3 separate regions of the Homo sapiens genome follow, and all the other regions are reported to be linked to region 2. Evidence: microRNA targets listed by miRTarBase, many of them from high-throughput screens and not tested one by one. Region 2 holds a microRNA gene; each other region holds the end of a gene's coding sequence.
What was found. The annotated mature microRNA hsa-miR-3194-5p reads GGCCAGCCACCAGGAGGGCUG and lies in region 2 at 2,040-2,060, shown strand. An mRNA with a match to its seed (bases 2 to 7 or 8) in the 3' UTR can be bound and repressed. Matches are read on the target gene's strand: a 7mer-m8 pairs with bases 2 to 8, a 7mer-A1 pairs with bases 2 to 7 and ends in A, and an 8mer does both.

Region 1 (3,350 bases), not on the chromosome of region 2:
AGGCTTCCATGCATAACATTTTCCCCAAAAGACACCACTGCCTTTTCAGACATTTGGAAAGGCCCCTGCGTATGGGTTAATTTCACGAGTCAGACATTTGGAAATGCCCCGGCATACGGGTTAATTTCATGAGGAGTGTGGACAGCTGTCATCAAGGCAATAGCCTCATCTAACTATTTTAATGGGTGGATGACCAGGAATATTTTTGCACCAACCTTTTTCCTACACAGTGTTGGACGCAGACTTAGAACACCACTTTGAATTGGAAAAGGTCCTACCTGGGGCATCAGCCGTTGCCAGGCAGTCTCAGCAATGCCTCTGCCCTCCCTGCAGCAGTCCCAAAATGAAAGCCACACCTTGGAGGGTGTGGCTTTTCTCTGTTTCATGGGTGCAAACCCTAGCGGCTCCACACCCCAGGGACTGGCCCCCAAAAAGCAAAAACACTGCTCATGGCGTGGCAGGTCCTCTAGTATGTATTTTTATGTGATATCACTATTCAGAACTGTGGTGTATACTATTCTATAAATTTCCACAATAGGTTGGCCGGACATCCTTTAATGGTGGGTATTAATTCCTCTTATTCTTTACGTTTCTTAGTGCATTTTGTTGTGAGGTGACAGGGAGCACCTGGGGCTTTGCTGCCGGGCCCCACAGGAAGCTGTGCTACATCTAGTGTGAGCATTCCTTCACTAAATGAAACGCTGGAAAGCCATGGGAACCGCACAGGACTGTGCAACCACCCCCATCCAACATCCACCACTTCTCATATCCTTTTCCGGGGACAGTGTTACTCTGGAAGCCTAATTTCAATATTTCATTTTCAAACAATAAACATTACAGGAATGATTTCACAAGTAAAATCACAGTGATAACAGCATATGAGTTTGATATTTAAGGACTGAAAATATTAGCCTGGTCCTGGTCCCATTTCATATAAAAATTTCTACCATTAATAAAATTCTAGAGGAAAAGGCAGGACAGTGTGAATGGTACATTGCTTAAAATGAACATTATTTGTTTCCTTTTGCTGTAAATACTGTTTCTACAACCATTTCTCCAGTATACTCCTATAAAAGGCCAATCAAGTCAGGCGATATGAAGTCTGTTTTTCTTTCCCAAGATGATTAACCAAGTTGCCAAGCTATCCCCTCAGTTCATGAGTAACCATGGGCAAGCAGACACGTCCCCAGAACATACCGTAACCCAGATCATAAATTCCAGCCCCCGAGTCATGCATAAGGTTCAAGCTGATCACTTCTAAACACACTTAACTGAGACCTCTCATAACCACAGACTCTTTAAAAAGCATAACCTATTTTTCAATTACCCACTGATTTCTACAGAGATGGCAGTTCCCATTACTGGATTAACAAACAAATAATATTAAAGTAGGCAGGATTTCAACTAGTTACGTTCCAGTAACTTTTCCTCTTACAGTAAGAAAATGGGTTGGATTCGGAGTTCAAATGTTCGCCTCTATTTGTGAGCATGGATCTCATCCTCAAAGTCATAATAGTAAGTCCTCTGTATACACACTTGAAAAGTAAAATGTTAAATGAGAAACGACCCAACTGATTTGTTTTTAATCCTCATACCCTGTCAATGCAGTGAGCCTCGTGTTAATTCTATTAGGGTATTTTGGAACTCAATTCAATACAATTAAATACATGCAGTTTACTTGCAAATCTATGGTGATAAGCACGTCACTTCCTTGTTATAAATCTATGCCCACTGTCACTCGGCCACACTTAGAATACTGATTGTAAAAATTAATCTCCCTCATCAGAACTACACGATCCACATTGAAAACATCATATACAGTGGGTTTAAAATGTGCCTACACTTTTTTTTATAGAACTGTCAAAGCAAAATGATTTTCCCCGCTTTTTAGGAATATTTTATCTCGTTCCAGATTATGAAAGCGGCTGGGCATACAGAGTGGACTATCAAAGATTGCTTTTTAGATAGACAAGCACCCTGGTAAGTTTTTCCTACTTATGATGTGCTGTTTGGTCACATTTAGCCACTGAAGACTTAAAATTTAAATAATGGTAAATCATCGCTACATCAGTTAACATCCTTTCAACTGAAAATATGAAAGCCCCCTCGGTCCAACAGTGAGACGGAGCTGCTCTAGGCATGTGAGTTTGAGTAGCAATGGTGTGGGGAAGGAAATACTTCCAATGCATATTGAACAAGAAACCTTACTGGTAATCAAAGATTTTACCTTTAATGCTTATTAAATTACTCTTTTTGGAGTTGAGCCAACCAAAGCGAGCACATGGTACGAAATTTTCAACTAAATCAGAAAGAGCTTTACTTATCAGTTATAATTTTAAATCTCAAGCCAAAAATAAAAGGCGTGACCCTCTCTGCGTGCTTCCCCCGATAGTTCGCGGCGACCTACTTGAGGGTCCCAGGCTCCTGCGCACAGCCTCGGTGCTCTGCGGGGTTCGGGACACCCCGGGGCCGGCTGCAGGCTGCCTCAGGAACCCCCACTGTACCCTGAGGCTGACCCTTTGGATCCCACAGCCTTCTCTGTGTCCTGTCTGTCAAGGGACCCATCCGCACACCTCCTGGGTCTCAAGGCATCCACCCCCAGAAGCAAAGACAAGCAAAAGGAAAGCAAAGCGAAAGCGGCCCTGAGAGCGTCCTCGGGGCTCCTTCGAAGTGTCCAAACCACCAGCGTGGCCAGCGGCCCCGACTCCCCACCACGTCCTCCTCCGCGGGCCCAAAGGGACCTGGGCCCCGCAAACCCCTGCCGAGGGAGACGCCCGCCGACCCCGCCGGCCTACGGGGCGCCCTGCTCCCCTCGGGGCGGCTTCTCAGGCAGGCTGAGAGCGAACGGGATGAGCACACCCCGGACGTCCAAGGGGGCGCCCAGCGCCTCGAAGCCGCCGCCCTGGCCTGCGTCGCCGCCGGCCTCGCCTTCCCGGGCAGGCTGGAAGCGCCAGGTGCCCGCGCGGCTCACGCAGTAGATGGCGCCGTCCAGGGCGGCGCAGCGGAAGGGCTGCAGGCCCGTGGGGCCGCCGGGGAGGCGCAGGGGCGCGACGCACGGGCTCCACTGCTTGGCCAGGCAGTGGTATCGGGACACGCTGACCCCGCTCGGCCCCGCCGCCTGCGCCTCGCCGCGGCTGCCGCTCAGATCGAAGCGGTAGATGAAGCCGTCGAGAGCCACCATGTCGGCCGAGCGCTCGCGGCTGCTGCTGCACGGGCACTCCTGCCACTCGTCGCGCCGCGGGTCATACTTGAGCAGGCGATAGAAGAGGGAGCCCCCGGACACGTAGATCTCGCCGTGGCAGGTGGTGGCCTCATGCGCCACGGCGAAGGCGCCCCGGGGCAGCGGCGCC
Region 2 (3,000 bases):
AATTCTCATGTACCTGTTCTCCTTATAAGGACAACAGGCAGCCTCTGGCTTCCTGTAAGGAGAACAGGCCTCTGTCCCTTGATTCATGAAAACGAAATGTGTTGTTAGAGGGAAATTAGCTCAAATGACTTAGAGCACTTTCACAAGGCATAACATTTGTACGTCATTGATTGTCAGGGGTGATGGTTCCACATTTTAGATAACAACAGGTGACACAGGTGGGCAGAGCATGTCATATCTCAGTACCATGAAATCAGACCTCCTCTTTTGAACAGACATCTCCCCTTATCACAGTGACTTCTCTCTCTTTTGCCTGCAGCCCAGCGATCTGCTCACGAGCTGCCCATGGTTGAAAGACAAGACACAGACAGCTGCCTGGTCTATGGCGGCCAGCAAATGATCCTCACGGGGCAGAACTTTACATCCGAGTCCAAAGTTGTGTTTACTGAGAAGACCACAGGTCAGTGGATTTTTGAGCTCTTTCTCTGTCCCCCAGAATCATGCAAAAGTGACCATCTCTTTATTATATACAACTTTGGTTTTGGGGGGTAGATCCCACCGTGCAGTTTTATACCCTGCTCTTTTTACTCAGCGTGTCTTCAGGGATTGTGATGGCCATACCATTCGCCATTGCATGAATGTGCCATTCTACATTTTAACTCTTCTAGGTCATTTTGACAGAAAATGAGATTATCTCCCACCCTCAATCCTTTTTTTAAAATTACTTTTTTACATAAGGAAGGAAATTTTTAAAACTTTTTGCTATTATCAAGAAGGGAGGCCAAACAGCACAGTGATAAAGCATGCATACTCTGGCCCTGGATATCTTGGGTTCAAATTCTGGGTTTGTTATCTGCTTGCTTGGTGATCCGAGGCATATTACCTATCCGTTAAAATTTCTTACCCCATAAAGTTGTCATGGAGGTTAAATGAGCTAATACATGTCACGTAATTATAATAGTGCCAAGTACAGCATAAGCCAATTAATATTGGCTACTTGTATTTTTATTATAAGTAGTTCTGCAGTGAATCAGCTTATACTTCTAGGATTAATTAATCTTGTACATGAATCTATATGTATATCTTTTTAGTTTATTTAGGGTTTATTCCCAGCAGTGGAATTTTGGATAGTCATTCTGAGGACTTTAAATACATATTGCTAAATTACCTTCCAGAAATCTACAAATTGAAGTTGCCATCATGTCAGTCATAGTTTCACCCCCATCCCAGAAATGCCATTTTTTTAAATTAAAAAGGAATCATTGTGGAATTGGTACTTCTTTCTACTTTGCATTTCCTTGCTCTGAGACGCATAATGTTTTGTTTATTCACCACGTGTATTCTTCCTTTGGTGTACTATCGGTGTCTTTTTCAGTGGGTATGTGGTAGAAAAGATGCTGATCTGAAGTAGGAAAATATCAGATTAAGCAATAATTAATGAAACAAATGTGTTGTTAGAAGGAAATTAGCTCAAATAACTTGGGACACTTATTTTGGATACTAGAACCAATTTTCCTTTTCCTTAACAGACATGATTTCAGTAGGTTACTTCAAAGGGGTGTTGATGTTTGTCTATTTGTTTATTGTCCTTAGAACAATCCGAGAATATAACAGGTGAGTTGTCCAGTTGGAGGGATTGTGCACTGTACAAGGGCACCTCCTCTGAGGGCTGCCATTCAAATTGGATACATCACCAGTTTACACGTTAGTAAGACAACTTCTGGCAGGGGGAAGCAGACTGTCTTAGGCAAAGAGTGCTTCTTCCAGTCTCGCACAAATCATCCTTCTGGGATGGGCTGGACATGTGACCGGGGTGTGACAACTGCATTCTCACAGTTGGAAGCATAACAAGAGGCAGAATTTATTTTAAAAGGGTTTGATGACGCCTTTGCGAAAAATAACAAAAAAGGTATTAAGTAAGGCTGTGGCAGTGGGGAAGGGAGATGCAGGGATGGGTCGGGAGTGGTTTAGAAGGCAGATGTCACTGAGGTTTGATGGGACGTAGTGGTGTAGAGAGGCATTAAGAACGCAGGTGGCAGGGCCAGCCACCAGGAGGGCTGCGTGCCACCCGGGCAGCTCTGCTGCTCACTGGCAGTGTCACCTGCGGAAACTCTCCATCATCTATCCCCTGAAAAGCAGGGACAGTGACAGTGCCTACCCACAAAGGTAAGGTCTGAATGAATTAGAGCAAGTGGGCTTAGCACCGGAAGTGCTCGGTAAGGGGCAGGGGCTGCTGCTGTTTTTCTGGAGCTGCTGTGGATGGGGAAGGGGAAGAGGTTGAGTGTCGAGATTGTTTTGTTCACGTGGTGCACTTGGCCAGCTGAGATTTAGCACACAGGAGAGGAGGTCTGTGTGGGGATGAGGTTGGGCAGGGAGGACGGGTTTCATTTTGGAAGTGGAAGCGTTGAGTCTCATGTACCCATGGGCCTTCTTGGATGAACCATGATCTCACCTCTGTGGAAAGGCAAGAGATTGGTGGGTATGTGGCCACGTGGTCTAGACTAAGAAACCAGATCCTGGCTGCAGATGTTGTCATGGGAGCTGTCAGCAATGAGATCTGAGGTGAAGTCCTGGGAATTGGCTCCGACCTCCCAGGATGGCCTCCAGTGGGAGAAGGGGAGGCTTAGAGAACTGAGAGCCACATCCCTTAAAGGTGGCAGAGGAGGAGCTGTCACAGCAGGAGGAGGAGAACCAGGGGAGTCTGGTGCCCTGGAGACCAGGGGAAGGAGACTTGGGAAGGGTCAGCAGAGGCAGTGCTATGAAGGTCACAGAGCCCGAGGTCAGCCTGAGAGTCCAGTGATTGGGGGGCCTCTGGTGATTTGAATCACACGTACCCAGGTGGCAGTGAGTTGAGGAGTGAGCTGAGGAGTAGCGTTGCTTGAGGGATCAGAGATGATGAAGGTAAAGTCTGCTCTAGGCAAGAAGACTCTGCACCAGCAGTCCCCAACCTTTTTGGCACCAGGGACCAGTTGCATGGAAGACAGTTCTTTTCAAGGGTTG
Region 3 (3,350 bases), not on the chromosome of region 2:
CAGCCTGGCATGGGCAGATTCCAGCCTTTGGGCTGGGGGCCTCTCTCCTGGGTCAGGGATGTCTGTTGACTCTGCCAGAGCTGCACTTCTCTCCACACAGACCCTCCCTGCCCCATCCCCCACATCTCCCCCAGGTGGAATTCTCAAGACTTCCAAGGAGGCCGATGCGGAGTCCCTGCAGGCTGCCTGGTACCCACGGACCTCCCTGCCCACTCCGCTGCGAGCCCATGACATCCTGCACCTGGTTGAACTAGCCGCCCAGTATCGCCAGCAAGCCAGGCACCCTCTCATTCTGCCCCAAGAGCTACCCTGTGATCTGGTCTGCCAGCGGCTCGTGGCTACCTTTACCAGCGCCCAGACAGTGTGGGTGTTAGTGGGCACAGTGGGGATGCCTCACTTGCCTGTCACTGCCTGTGGCCTCGACCCTATGGAGCAGAGGGGTGGCATGAAGATGGCCGTCCTGCGGCTGCTGCAGGAGTGTCTGACCCTGCACCACTTGGTGGTGGAGATCAAGGGGTTGCTTGGACTGCAGCACCTGGGCCGAGATCACAGTGATGGCATCTGTTTGAATGTGCTGGTGACCGTGGCTTTTCGGAGCCCAGGGATCCAGGATGAACCCCCAAAAGTTCGGGGTGAGAACTTCTCTTGGTGGAAGGTGATGGAGGAAGACCTGCAAAGCCAGCTCCTCCAGCGGCTTCAGGGATCCTCTGTTGTCCCAGTGAACAGATAGAGAGGTGGGGGAGGTGACAGGGAGCTAGGCAGCCGTGCTCCCTCCAGTGCGGACTTGTCTCCCTCTGAGGGAGGCAAGAGGCTGGCGATCAGGGATCTTGTTGCATTGGGAGCAGGGGCGGCTCTCCTGGTCCCCAGGAGAGATGCTTTGAGGAGCATTCCTCTAGATTGCACAAGGGACAGTGCCTTTAACCAAGCGAGGAGTCCAAAGCTCAGGACCTGACTACCCTGAGGGCACGCTGACGCCTCTTCCCAGGGGGATGGGGAGCTTTCTGCACCCCCAGTGGCATCTCCTCATCACGTTCTGTGCCGTCCTTGGGAAAGGCCTGCATTCTGATCCTTCCAGGCCCTTCGAGCATGGAGGGGCACTGGGGAAGGTCCCCCGAGGGAGGAGCACGTTGCTGAGTAAAGAGGTGTTACTCACCTTGCCTCCCTGCCTACACGTCTCTGTGGGGAGAAAGTGATGGGGACTACTGTCCAGGAGCTGCTGCTCCCCTCGTGTTACCCACAGGCACCCATGCCTTTCCCAGTGCACTGACAGTGCGGGCCAGTCTGCTGTCCAGCACGGCCCCTGGGGCTCCCTCCAGTTGGCCTGCTGGCCCGGGATGTGACTCTGAGGGGACCCATCCCTAATGAAACACAGCTCTGAGCCCTCCAAGGGTTGGGCAGTGGGCGGCCCCAGAGGAACTTCAAGTGGGACAGGAGCTGCAGGTGCTGCCTCTGCTCTCTCCTTGAGCCTCCCTGGCGCAGACCACTCCCCCTGGCTCTCCTGCCTCTGCCTTTTCACAACTTCAGCCCATGCCAGACCAAACCTTTTCTTCATTTCCCCTCAGCCTCGCTGAATCATGGTAGGATTTTTTTTTTTTTTTTTTTTTTTTTTTGCTAAGTGGCCGGGCACAGTGGCTCACACCTGTAATCCCAACACTTTGGTAGGCTGACACAGGTGGATCACTTGAGGTCAGGGAGTTCGAGACCAGCCTGGCCAACATGGCAAAACCCCATCTCTACTAAAAATACAAAAAACTAGCCGGGCATGTTGGCAGATGCCTGTAATCTCAGATACTTAGGAGGCTGAGGCAGGAGAATCGCTTGAACCCCGGAGGCAAAGGTTGCAGTGAGCCGAGCTCCAGCCTGGGTGATAGACTTCGTCTGAAAAAAAAAAAAAAAAAAAAAGAACTTTGGCCAGGCACGGTGGCTCACACCTTTAACCCCAGTGCTTTGGGAGGCTGAGGCAGGAGGATCGCTTGAAGGCCAGAGTTTGAAGCCAGCCTGGGCAACATAGTGAGACCCTGTGTCTACAGGAAAAAAAAAAGGCCAGGCAAGGTGGTGCACACCTGTAAATCCCAGCTATTCAGGAGGCTGAGGCAGGAGGATGGCTTGAGCCCGGGAGGTTGAGGCTGCAGTGAGCCATGCTCAGGCCACTGCACTCCAGTCTGGGTGAGACAGCAAGACCCTCTCTCAAAAGAAAAAAGAAAAGAAAGAGGAAAAAAAGAACTTTACTGAAATTTAAGCAAAATCAAAGGAAATGAACAAATAAAATATATCAAGTGTTCTACGGTAGAGATTTCTGATTCTGAGCAAGGAAACACTAGCACAGGCTCCCCTTCTGAGGGCCAAGATGACCTCCAAGGCCCCTTTCCCAGCCCCCTCCCTGCCTCTCTTGGCTGCCCTCCTTTCTGGGCCCTGGAGGGTGGTAGGAATCCTTGTACCCTCTGAGGACAAATACCTCACAAATGATGGAACCAAACCCCTTTGTTTCAGTTCACTTCTCTCAGTGTCTAAGGGACCCACTGGCCCATATCCAGTCAGCCGGGCAATGACATTTGGCTATTTGCCCCCATTATTTAGCCTAGTAGTTTCCAACCCTGGGCACACGTTAGGGTCACCTGGGTTTTTTTTTTTTTCCCTCAAACAGGGTCTTGCTCTGTCACCCAGGCTGGAGTGGAGTGGTGTGATCCTGGCTCACTGCAGCCTTGACCTCCCAGGCTCAAGTGACAAGTGATTCTCCTGCCTCAGCCTCCCAAGTAGCTGGAACCACAGGCGCATTTTTAAGCTTTTAGTAGAGATGGGGTTCTCACTATGTTGCCAAGGCTGGTCTTGAACTTCTGTCCTCAAGTGATCCTCCCGCCTCAGCCTCCCAAGGTACTAGGATTATAGGCGTGAGCCACCATGCACAACCACCTGGAGAGCTTGAACTCTGGGTGTACCCCCAGCAACAATAATTTAACTGGTGATGGGGCACTGGGCATTGGGATTTTAAAAAGCCACCCAGTGATCAACACGAGTTGAGAGCCAACATCTGGCTCCTTTTCCTCCACGTTCTCAGCCTGCCCTCCCGCAGTCTCTTGGGGACCCCCCTCAGAGGATCCCCCACCCCTCCACACACATCTGAGGACAAAGGGTTTATTTATGTGTTAACTTTTCTTTTTCCCTGAGAACACACCTGTGAAATTTTTTTTTTTTTTTTTTAGACAGGGTCTTACTCTATTGCCCAGGCTGGAGTGCAGTGGTGCAATCGGCTCACTGCAGCCTTGAACTTAAAGACAAGGTTTTAAATATCAGGCCTACTTTATGACTAAAACAGGCATACAACACGCAGCATAAACACACCCAAATGAGAC

Region 1: the mRNA of KBTBD11 is a reported target of hsa-miR-3194-5p. The part of its 3' UTR that is shown has no 7-base or 8-base seed match.
Region 3: miRTarBase lists NUDT18 as a target of hsa-miR-3194-5p. Seed matches in the 3' UTR shown: 7mer-m8 at 810-816.

The regions. Positions count from the first base shown.
Region 1 is chr8:2,002,506-2,005,855 of GRCh38, reverse strand. It overlaps KBTBD11 (kelch repeat and BTB domain containing 11), which reads right to left. Exons shown (of 2, transcript NM_014867.3): 2 at 1-3,350. The coding sequence ends at 2,792. Among named protein-coding and RNA genes, the nearest start is that of KBTBD11, 31 kb to the right of the region's middle.
Region 2 is chr20:51,452,008-51,455,007 of GRCh38, reverse strand. MIR3194 (microRNA 3194) reads left to right here and starts at 2,031; the gene lies at 2,031-2,103. NFATC2 (nuclear factor of activated T cells 2) reads left to right here. Exons shown (of 11, transcript NM_012340.5): 6 at 320-460.
Region 3 is chr8:22,104,680-22,108,029 of GRCh38, reverse strand. It overlaps NUDT18 (nudix hydrolase 18), which reads left to right. Exons shown (of 3, transcript NM_024815.4): 3 at 135-1,152. The coding sequence ends at 730. FHIP2B (FHF complex subunit HOOK interacting protein 2B) reads right to left here. Exons shown (of 17, transcript NM_022749.7): 17 at 3,119-3,350. Among named protein-coding and RNA genes, the nearest start is that of NUDT18, 3.1 kb to the left of the region's middle. RefSeq lists enhancers at 1-270, 667-811 and a cis regulatory region at 739.